Regions from separate parts of the Homo sapiens genome. Here region 2 is reported to be linked to region 1. The links are microRNA targets in miRTarBase. Many come from high-throughput screens and were not tested one by one. Region 1 holds a microRNA gene; the other region holds the end of a gene's coding sequence.

Region 1 (5,072 bases):
CATCAACCATATAGTCGGTACTTAATAAGTGTCTGAATACATGAATTATTTGATTAATGAATTAATGAATGCTGGGTCACAGGAGGTGGGTCATGCCAGAGACAAAACAGATTAATTGATTGAATGAATGAGAGAGCAGAGATTGGGGTCTCTTTGACCTGTAGCACAGATGCCAGCCTAGCTCCTCACCTGTCTTCACCCCAAGGCTCAGCCACAGCAGGAGGAGGAGGACCAGCCACGTGGCAGCAGGCATCAAGCAGAGATAGAAGTGCTGCAGCGTCCAAGGCCTGGTCTTTAAATATCCACCCATCCCAGCCAGCCCACCTGGTTCCTCCCTACTCCTGGGGAGGAACCAGCAGACACCTGGGCAGTCACTGGCAGACAGCAGGAGTGACACAGGTATCCCAGCTGCTTGAAATAGCTCACCCAAGCAGAGGTAATTTTGACATCCTGGAAACTCCAGCCTCCAGGGGAAGAATCTGAAAAACCAGAGTGACAAAATGACAGCGCTCACAGGAACTTTGCAGATTATCTAATCTTTTTATTTATTTTATTTTATTTTTTGAGACAGAGTCTCACTCTATCGCCCAGGCTGGAGTGCAGTGGTACGATCTCAGCTCACTGCAACCTCTGCCTCCCGGGTTCAAGAGGTTCTTCTGCTTCAGCCTCCCCAGTAGCTGGGATTACAGGTGGCTACTATTACACCCAGCTAATTGCTGTATTTTTAGTAGAGACGAGTTTTCACCACGTTGGCCAGGCTGGTCTCAAACTCCTGACCTCAGGTGATCCACTGCCTCAGCCTCCCAAAGTGCTGGGATTACAGGCATGAGCCACCACACCTGGCCAATTGACTTTTATTAGCATTCATATACAGGTTTTGTGTGAATATATGTTTTCATTTCTCCGGGATAAATGTGCAAAAATGAAATTACTGCATCATATAGTAGTTGCACATTCAGTCATAAAAAAAAACAGCCAAGCTGTTTCCCAGAGTGGCTGCACCACTTTAAATTCTCACAGCAGTGATTGAGTGGTACAGTTCCTTTGCATCCTTGACAATAGTATTGTTACTATTTTTTATTTTGGTGATTCTTTTTTTTTTTTTTTTTTTTGAGACATAATCTTGCTCTGTCGCCCAGGCTGGAGCGCAGTGGCATGATCTCAGCTTACTGCAACCTCCGTCTCCTGGGTTTAAGCAATTATCTTGCCTCAGCCTCCCAAGGTGCTAGGACTACAGGCGTGTGCCACCACACCTGGCTAATTTTTGTGTTTTCAGCAGAGACAGGGTTTTGCCATGTTGGCCAGGTTGGTCTTGAATTCCTGATCTCATGTGATCTGCCTGCCCCAGCCTCCCAAAGTGTTGGGATTACAGGTGTGAGCCACCATGCCTGGCCTTATTTTGTTGATTCTAACACGTGGTGATATCTCCTGGTTTAAAGAAGCGTTTCCCTAATGGTATCAAACATCTTTTCATGTGCTTATTTGCAATCTGTATATCTTCTCCAGTGAAATGTTGCTTTGTATCTTTTGCTCATGTTCTAATTGCATTCTTTGTTTTGTTACTATTTTAAGACTTTTAAATGTATTCTAGATACTAGTCCTTTGCAAATATAGTCATGCATCGCATAAGGACATTTTGGTCAATGACAAACTGCATATAGGATGCGGTCCCATAAGATTATAATAATGGGCCTGAAAAAATTCCTGTTGCCGAGTGCAATGCTACTCATGTGTCTAGTGATGCTCGTGTAAAGCTACTGTGCTGCCACTTGCATAAAAGCACAGCGCACACCATTCTGTACAGTACACAATACTTGATAATGATAATAAATGTGTTCCTGGATAGCACAGCACACACCATTCTGTACAATACACAATACGTGATAATGATAATAAATGTGTTCCTGGTTTATGTATTTACTATAATATACTATTGATCAGTGTTTTAGAGTGTACTCCTTCTCTCTATAAAAGAATTAAGTGAACTAGCAGGCCCTTTGGGAAGTACTGTAGAAGGCATTGTTACCACAGGCGATGACAGCTCCATGTGTGTTATTGCCCCTGAAGACCTTCCAGAGAGACAAAATGTGGAGGTGGAAGACAGTGATACTGATGACCCTGACCCTGTGTGGATCTAGGCTAACATGTGTTTTTGTGTCTTAGTTTTCAACAAAAAAGTTTAAAAAGTTAAAATACTAAGTTTATAAAGTTAAAAAGTTACAGTAAGCTAAGGCTGACTTATTGAAAAAATGTGCTTATACATGTAATATAGCTAAGCTGGCTTTTGCAAACATAGAGTCCTGTGGATGTTATGCTGACTTCGGCTTGGGGTTTTTCACAGAGAGAAGCATGGCAAGGGGGACTCCATCAGGTTGGTGCAAAGGTAATTGCTGTTTTCGCAATTAAAATAATGGGAAAAACTGCAATTACCTTTGCACCCACCTAATAACTTATCTAGGGGACTCTTTCTCCACCCAAAACCCAGGACACTTGGCCCACAACTACATCACCACCCCAGGGTTCCAGGACACTTGGCCCATGACTACATCACCACCCCAGGGTTCCAGGACACTTGGCCCACAACTACATCACCACCCCAGGGTTCCAGGACACTTGGCCCATGACTACATCACCACCCCAGGGTTCTTTACTATAGTTTTCTTGTTCTTCCTTCAATTACGTGTGACATTCCCAACTCCAAGATTCTTCCAGTCCTTCTCTCCCCCTTCATCTAAAGCAGGCTGTCATGAGTTTCTGTCAGCTGCAATCAAGAGTCATGACTCTTACAGTGGGTAGGATTACTCCCTTTTTTGTTGTCATTAAGGAAACCTGTAAGAGGAAAAACAAACACACTTTATGTGGAGAGACAGGGAAAGTTGTTCTATTCAGTCTGGAATCTAGTCCCTCAGCTGGTGGTCCACCTTCGGATTCACTGGTCTTGGGAGTAAGACGGTGCCTTGTAGTCAAAGAAGTGAGGAATTCTGGTGCCTCCTGAGGGTGGAACTGAGGAGAGGAGACGTGAGAGAGGATGCTGGAAAGGAGGAAGCAGCCAGAATGTGTAGGGCCTTTGTGGCCAGGCCAAGGAGCCTCAGGGAATATCTGAGCGTCTTAAATAGGTCAGAGGGCAATTCTGAAAACAAACTCCTTCTACCTGCTGTGTAGGCAATGAGTTGTCATTGTTAGATAGAGGATAAAATGAACCCAATTAGATTATTGCCATCATTCCAGTGATTGAAGATGTTGATCTGTAATAGGGTAATGGCCATACACTTTCGAGAGGAAAAATGTTCAAATTTAGGGGATAATTAGAAATCTGCACTTACAGCCCTTGGTGACACTTTTCCTATGAGCCAAACGGAGAGGGGGAGAGAGAGAGAAGGTGGACAGTCACCGACATATGAGGCAGTGGAAGAGGAACAGGCATGGATAGGAAGAGAATTGTGGGACACACTGGGTTCGAGATGCCTGTGTGAGACAGTCTCATGAATATGTCCAGTAGTATATTGACCAAGCAAGTCTGTCAGGAGCCTCTGGAAATGAGGTACAGAATTTGATAGTCATCACTATGGAGATGGTAACCTGAGCCGTGAGAGAAGCTAAAATCCCCGGGGAGAGGATGTAGAATGAGAGGAGAAAATGGGCCAGGACAAACACAAGGAATGCTCGGAGGGAGGGGCAAAACCAGAACAGTACAGCGTCCCCAAACCAAGGAAAAGAATGTTGCCAGAAGAGGAGAGTCAGGCTGTTTCAAACTCTGCTAAGAAGTGAAGGATGTTGCATATTGAGTAGAGTCCATTGGGGTTACCAGTCAGGCTGACTCAGGGATCCTCTTTGGCAGAAGTAGTTCCAATGAAGTGGGAGGAGGAAGGGAGGAGCAGAGGCCAAATGAGCGTGAGGAGTGTTTAGGAGTTGACAGAAAGTGTATCCACTTTTTTGAGACGTTTAGCCAGGAAGAGGGAGAGACATGGGGCAGTAGGTGGAGGAGGAGATGAAATTAAGGGAGTGTATGGAGTTTTAAAATGGAAAGCTTGATCCTGTTTAAATGCTGTTTTATGCCCCTACGAGGGCGAGGTTAAACATACAGAATAGAGGCATAACTGATAGAGCCAAGACTCCCACCCAGGAGCGGGTTTCGAGCGGCACCTCTCTAATTCAATCCCAAAGGAAAAGAGGATACATGTGGGTCCAGGTACATGCTGAGGTTTGGTGGCAGGACTTTGAAGGAGGTCCCATCTGATGGCTTCTATTTCTCCTGTGAAATAGGGGAAGCCCTGTCTGCTGGTTGTGATGTGCCGTGACAGTCAGAAATGCGGGGAAAAGGGGACAGGTCTGAAACGGGAGGCGTTAAGAATGGGAAAGTAAAGGCAGGCGCGATGGCTCACGCCTGTAATCCCAGCACTTTGGGAGCTCGAGGCGGGTGGATCACCTGAAGTCGGGCATTTGAGACCAGCCTGGCCAACATGGTGTAACCCCATCTCTACTAAAAATACAAAAATTAGCCAGGCATGGTGGTGTGTGCCTGTAATCCCAGCTACTTGGGAGGCTGAGGCAGGAGAATCGCTTGAACCCAGGAGGTGGAGGGTGCAGTGAGCTGAGATCGCGCCGCTGCACTCCAGACTGGGTGGCAAAGCGAGACTCCAACTCAAAAAAAAAAAAAAAAAAGAATGGGAAAGGGAGAGTGTCTGGGGAAGCAGCGTTGCCTCGGCAAGGCCTGAGACCGGCTGGGGTTAGAGATCAGGACTCCCGCGTGGCCTCGTCTCTGCCTCTGTGCATTTTCCCCCAGCAGGTCAGCAGTGTGAAAGGCGGGGGTTCTAGTAGGTCTCACAGGGAGACAATGCAGGAAGGGGCTGAGAATTGCAAGTGAGAGGTTATTGGTAGGACGGACAATGCAGGAGCTGGATGGACTGCACGGACTGAGCGATCGCCACCGAGAGATATTTGGGGTACCCTGCCCCAGTCCCCAGCCCTCAGCCCCCGACCCACCATGGGAGGTGGGAGCAGCGGGCAGGCCGGTTGGGGGCCAGATACCCAGGCAGTGGGATGTGCAGTGGGAGGGGTCTCCGCCCCTGCCC
Region 2 (5,058 bases), not on the chromosome of region 1:
CCACCCTGCTAAAGGGCAGGCCAATGCCACCGTGTCTGTACCTCTCCACCACTTCTTCCTGACCCAATTGAATTGGACCAAGACTCAATCCAACACTAAACTGGGCCAATCAGCTTCATTCCTGAAGATCTGGGAGTGGGGCACTGAGCAGCTGAGTCAGGTATGTTTGCAGAGCTGGGTTATGAGGCTATGGAAGCTCTGTGCATGATTATGCATACACAGCAGCCACAAGGAAACAGATGGAAGCTAGACTCATTTCTGCCAGAAAAGGGAAGAAACAAGAGCCACAGATTCAGAGGGGCAGCTGTCTTGGGCCCCAGTGGTTTCCCAGATCCCTGTTCCTCTGAATGACACCAGGCTGTACTTTATTCCTATGCAATCTCTCTAAACTGTCAGAGTGAACCATCAGCCCATCAACCAAAGCTGCACTGCAGATGCATTTTATTGAGCTCACACATCATTTGAACATTTTTGATCCAATATACTAATATTTGGAGATTTCACAGAAAAACCTAGACTCCTCTTTTGAACATTGTAAGATCTGGTCACACTGGACCCATGGTGGAACAACATCAGCTGGAAGGGAGTTGCAGCCCCCCCCTGCAGACAGGGCTGGTGTTTCTCTTGTCCTTACACCTTTTCCATTTCACTGATTTACATGCCCTGAATTTCCCCTGTAGGAAATTAACTACCGATCCCAGTCTTATAATAAAGCTCTGTTCCTTAATTTTAATTATCCTGAGTAGAATTTCTGTTCCTGGCCACGAAAACAGTGCTGATGAGAGCTCTGTGGCCTACACATCCACGGCAGGCTCCTTGCAACCATCGCCCATCCAACAGCCATTGCTATCCTTCTTCTGTGCTAACAGAATCCCAATTTTGTGTTCAGGAGGCTGTGGGTATCCCTTGGTGCTCGTAGGCCCTTCCTTCCAGCCCTACAGCAGGACTCATGCTGGGATGGGCATGACACCCAGGTCTGATCAATGAGAAGCAATGGTAAATCTGCCAGGGGACTTCCTTTTCTAACCAAAACCAACAGACTCTTCTGAAAGAAAACCTTTTATGACTGCTCCTTTCCCATTCTACCTTCTTTGAAAAGAAATATGATGTCCAGCACAGGGGCAGCCATTTTGTGACCATGAGGTTTCAAGCACAGGGTCAGATGGCCAACATGCAGAGGATGGTGAAAAGAAAAGGCAAAAAGAAGCTGGGTTCTTGATAACATTGTTGAGCGTTGAACCTTCTCTGATCTCTGCCTGGTTTTGGTTCTAATGGTTTAAGCCACTATTGACTGAGATTACTGTTCTTAGGTTGGTGCAAAAGTAATTGCATTTGGGAGGCCAAGGTGGGCGGATCACTTGAGGTCAGGAGTTTGAGACCAGCCTGACCAACATGGTGAAACCTTGTCTATACTAAAAATACAAAAATTAGCCAAGCATCAAGGCGGGCACCTGTAATCCCAGCTACTCAGGAGGCTGAGGAGGGAGAATCGCTTGAACCTGGGAGACAGAGTTGCAGTGAGCTGAGACTTCATCTCAAAAAAAAAAAAAAAGTAATTGCAGTTTTTGCCATTGAAAATAATGGCAGGGGAGACTCTTGATCTTATCATTCAAGGCTTTCTGTTGCTCAATGTTATATTAAAAACAATGAATTTCCATACTAATTTCAAAGTCAATTCCTAAGATACTGTTTCATCCCATTGTGAACACCACCAAGGTCAGTTATATGTTTTTCAGAATACTTGAAGTACGAGAAAAACAGAAATATATAGCTCTGGCTACATTAAATATCTTTTGCCACTTTCTGAGATCTTTCGTAACTCTAAGAGAAACATGGCATTTCCATTAACGAAAATAGGAGCTTTTTGAATAGGATTGTTCAAAATTAGATACAAATGTTCTCAGCTAAAGGTCTCACATATTCAGAAGTTTGGGTGCCTTTTGTGATAGCTCTTGTATCATTTGATAATATTGATTTTTTTGAAAAAGGCAGGCTATTTACAAGGCAAAGAGTTTTTGTTTTGTTTTGTTTTGTTTTTGAGATGGAGTCTTGCTCTGTCGCCCAGGCTGGAGTGCAGTGGCGCGATCTCGGCTCACTGCAAGCTCTGCCTCCTGGGTTCACGCCATTCTCCGGCCTCAGCCTCCTGAGTAGCTGGGACTACAGGCACCCGCCACCACACCTGGCTAATTTTTTTTTGTATTTTTAGTAGAGACGGGGTTTCACCATGTTAGCCAGGATGGTCTCGATCTCCTGACCTTGTGATCCGCCCGCCTCGGCCTCCAAAAGTGCTGGGATTATAGGCATGAGCCACCATACCCAGCAGGAGTTTTTAACTTTCACTTTCTCAAGTAGAGAAGGCCCTCAACTGTAAACCCCTTTACCCTAGTCTCTGGGAAATATTCCTGCCCACCAAGCACTCTATCCCCCCCAGCCCCCAGCTCCACTGGGTTATTCTAGGGTGAGGGAGCGGACATGATCATCCAGTAGCGTCTGACCAGCCGGAAGGCAAAAGAGACAAGCAAAAGTTCTGTGTTACCCAGGAGAGCTCAGCTGTCCAGAAATAATTAGAGCTACAGCCACACGTGGTTCAAGGAAATGTGGTTGTCAGAGAGAGACAGAGATCTGCCAAGCCATCTCCTCTTCAACTGCCTGGGCGGAGGGGGCTGCAGCCCACATTTTAGAGACACAGTATTGTTTGCAGTTGATTTAGAACTTGAGCTGGAAGAAGTCCCCCATCATGACCTGCACACCATTAGAAGAAAGTGTTGTCTCCAACAAGCTCAGCCACAATGTTGGCTGCCAACGGTATGTCTTTCCCCACTCATTGGAAAGGAGATTATCACACTAAAGCATTGAGATGAATTCCGATGAACAAAGGTAGTCAGACCGTTAGGCTGGACTGTCACTAGGACATGATGACAATGAATAAACTTAGGCTCTTGCAATGTCCATCACTGACATGTTTTAATAAGAGTTGAACGCACAAATTGGCTTCCTTGCAATGTTTACTTCAAGCAGTAGGTCTGTCTGCTCTGGCCTTTGATGGGATCTGCCAGCTTCCTCCCTCCTTGTCTATGTCCCCTGCCTTCACCATGGGAAAAAAGGCTCCAGTAAACCAAATCCCAGAAGTGATGTTGCCTGCGGAGACCAACTCAAAACCAACTGGCCTCCCACTGCTTCCTTTGAAAACATATACATTTCACACACCTGAGTCCTCCCACCCCTCTCCACTCCACGGCAGGCTCCATGAATGGAACTCCAGGGGCTGCCTTTGTGTAATGATCAAGACGTCCCTGGACAGAGGAGCAGCTTCGCATCAGGGAATCCTGGTCCCCTGATCCCCATGGGATGAGATGGTGGGTGTAGCATCCTTCTGGTTTCTCTGCCCATTCAGCTGTCTACCCATGCACAAAACCCAAAGCCCTGGATTTTGGATTTTGTACCTGCAAACCTGAGTAAACTTTTTCCCCTCAAGAGTCATCATTCAGGCCGGGTGCAGTGGCTCCCACCTGTAATCTCAGCACTGTGGGAGGCCGAGGCGGGTGGATCACTTGAGGTCAGGAGTTCGAGACCAGCCTGGCCAACATGGTGAAACCCTGTCTCTACTAAAAAGTACAGGTGGGCACCTGTAATCCCAGCTACTCGGGAGGCTGAGACAGGAGAATTGCTTGAACCCGGGAGGCAGAGTTGCAGTGAGCCGAGATCACGCTACTGCACTCCAGCCTGGGCGACAGATCAAGACTCCGTCTCAAAAAACAATAAAAGTCACCATTCAGCCTGACCAAGGAGGGGGCCAGGAAAGAAGTCGGAACCGTGGCCTTCGCTGCTTCAGAAGGGGAGGCCCGTGCTCTGACTTCAGCTTGATTCACTTTGGCCTCAGTCCTCAGTTCCCAGGGGGTAACGGCGTTCTGAGGTTGTCACCTGGTGCAAGACCAGCTGTCCCCAGGGACACATCTGGATCTCTTGGTGCCAACAACGGCAACTCCAGAGGGGGCTGGGTGGGGGCATGTGGCTCCAGTTTGAATGCACCATGTCCATCTGCCAGAGAATCCACTGGTCAGGCTCTAGGGAGGCAAACCGGGGGGCCCCTGCCAGGAAATAGCTGCTCAGACCACACCTAGATCGCCTGCAATTTCAAAGAAGAAAGCCTGGGGCTGTGAGTGTGGGAGAAACCTACTGAACAGGTCCGGTGGGTGGACAGCAGGTGTCACATGGGCCTGAGCCTGGACGGTATCTACAGAGAGATATTTTGGTTGTTCACTGAGGGTTTGGCCGGGTGACTCTGGGTGGTGTCTGATTGGTTGCTGGCATTACCAGACCCTCCTAATATGGGTAGTCTTCCCATGTAGATCCACAGGTTATGAACAAAGCTTTCACCACATATACAGAGAACCCCCTAGAGCAAACATCTCCCCATCCCTGGGTGGACCTCAATGAAGATGAGCAAACTGAGTCAAGACACAAAACCCTGTTGGTCCAGGTCATACTCTTGGGTGAGTTCTTGATGTCGGCAGTGACAATCAGTGCCCCAGTTGGGGCCTGCCAGCCCCCCAAGCTCTGCAGCCTCAAAGACCAGCTCAGTCCCCCATCGGTCACTATTCCTGAGAGCCAGAGTTCGACCTGGTAACACCTGCACCGTGCATTCCTCGGCCGACCATCTCCTGGCCCCACTCCCGGTGGCTGGACTCCTGCAGTCCTCGGCCTTTGGTCTCAATGGGCAAAAAGCAGGAGGCCAGGGCAGCCAGGAGGCAGCAGCCACTGTAAACTGCCAGAGTCAGGTACACAGAGGATTCCAGCATCACCTAGGGGAAGGAGACACGGGTCGGTGAAAGCATCCCTTCTGAAGCACAGACATCGCCAACCATCAAATAGTATTAGTAACATCAGGCCCTCTCGTGATATCTGCTTGCTAAAAAGGATCTGGTGATTCCCTCCTCTCCCCCTTTGTCCCTCTCTCTCCTTGTGACACGCCTGCCCCTCCTTTGCCTTCCTCCATGAGTAAAAGCTTCCTGAGGCCTCACCAGAAGCCAAGCAGATGCTGGTGCCATGCTTGTACAG

Evidence for each region. Region 1 holds the annotated microRNA hsa-miR-570-3p (CGAAAACAGCAAUUACCUUUGC, at 2,378-2,399, opposite strand). A microRNA usually pairs through its seed, bases 2 to 8, with sites in the 3' UTR of a target mRNA and lowers its output. Matches are read on the target gene's strand: a 7mer-m8 pairs with bases 2 to 8, a 7mer-A1 pairs with bases 2 to 7 and ends in A, and an 8mer does both.
Region 2: miRTarBase lists SVOP as a target of hsa-miR-570-3p. Seed matches in the 3' UTR shown: 8mer at 3,184-3,191 and 7mer-m8 at 766-772.

What each region holds. Positions count from the first base shown.
Region 1 is chr3:195,696,787-195,701,858 of GRCh38, reverse strand. It overlaps MIR570 (microRNA 570), which reads right to left and starts at 2,458; the gene lies at 2,362-2,458. All of the region lies in intron 2 of MIR570HG (MIR570 host gene), which reads right to left. LOC124909477 (a long non-coding RNA gene) reads right to left here. Exons shown (of 2, transcript XR_007096227.1): 2 at 2,789-2,829. It also overlaps the pseudogene SMBD1P.
Region 2 is chr12:108,907,940-108,912,997 of GRCh38, forward strand. SVOP (SV2 related protein) reads right to left here. Exons shown (of 16, transcript NM_018711.5): 16 at 1-4,802. The coding sequence ends at 4,596. Among named protein-coding and RNA genes, the nearest start is that of DAO, 30 kb to the left of the region's middle.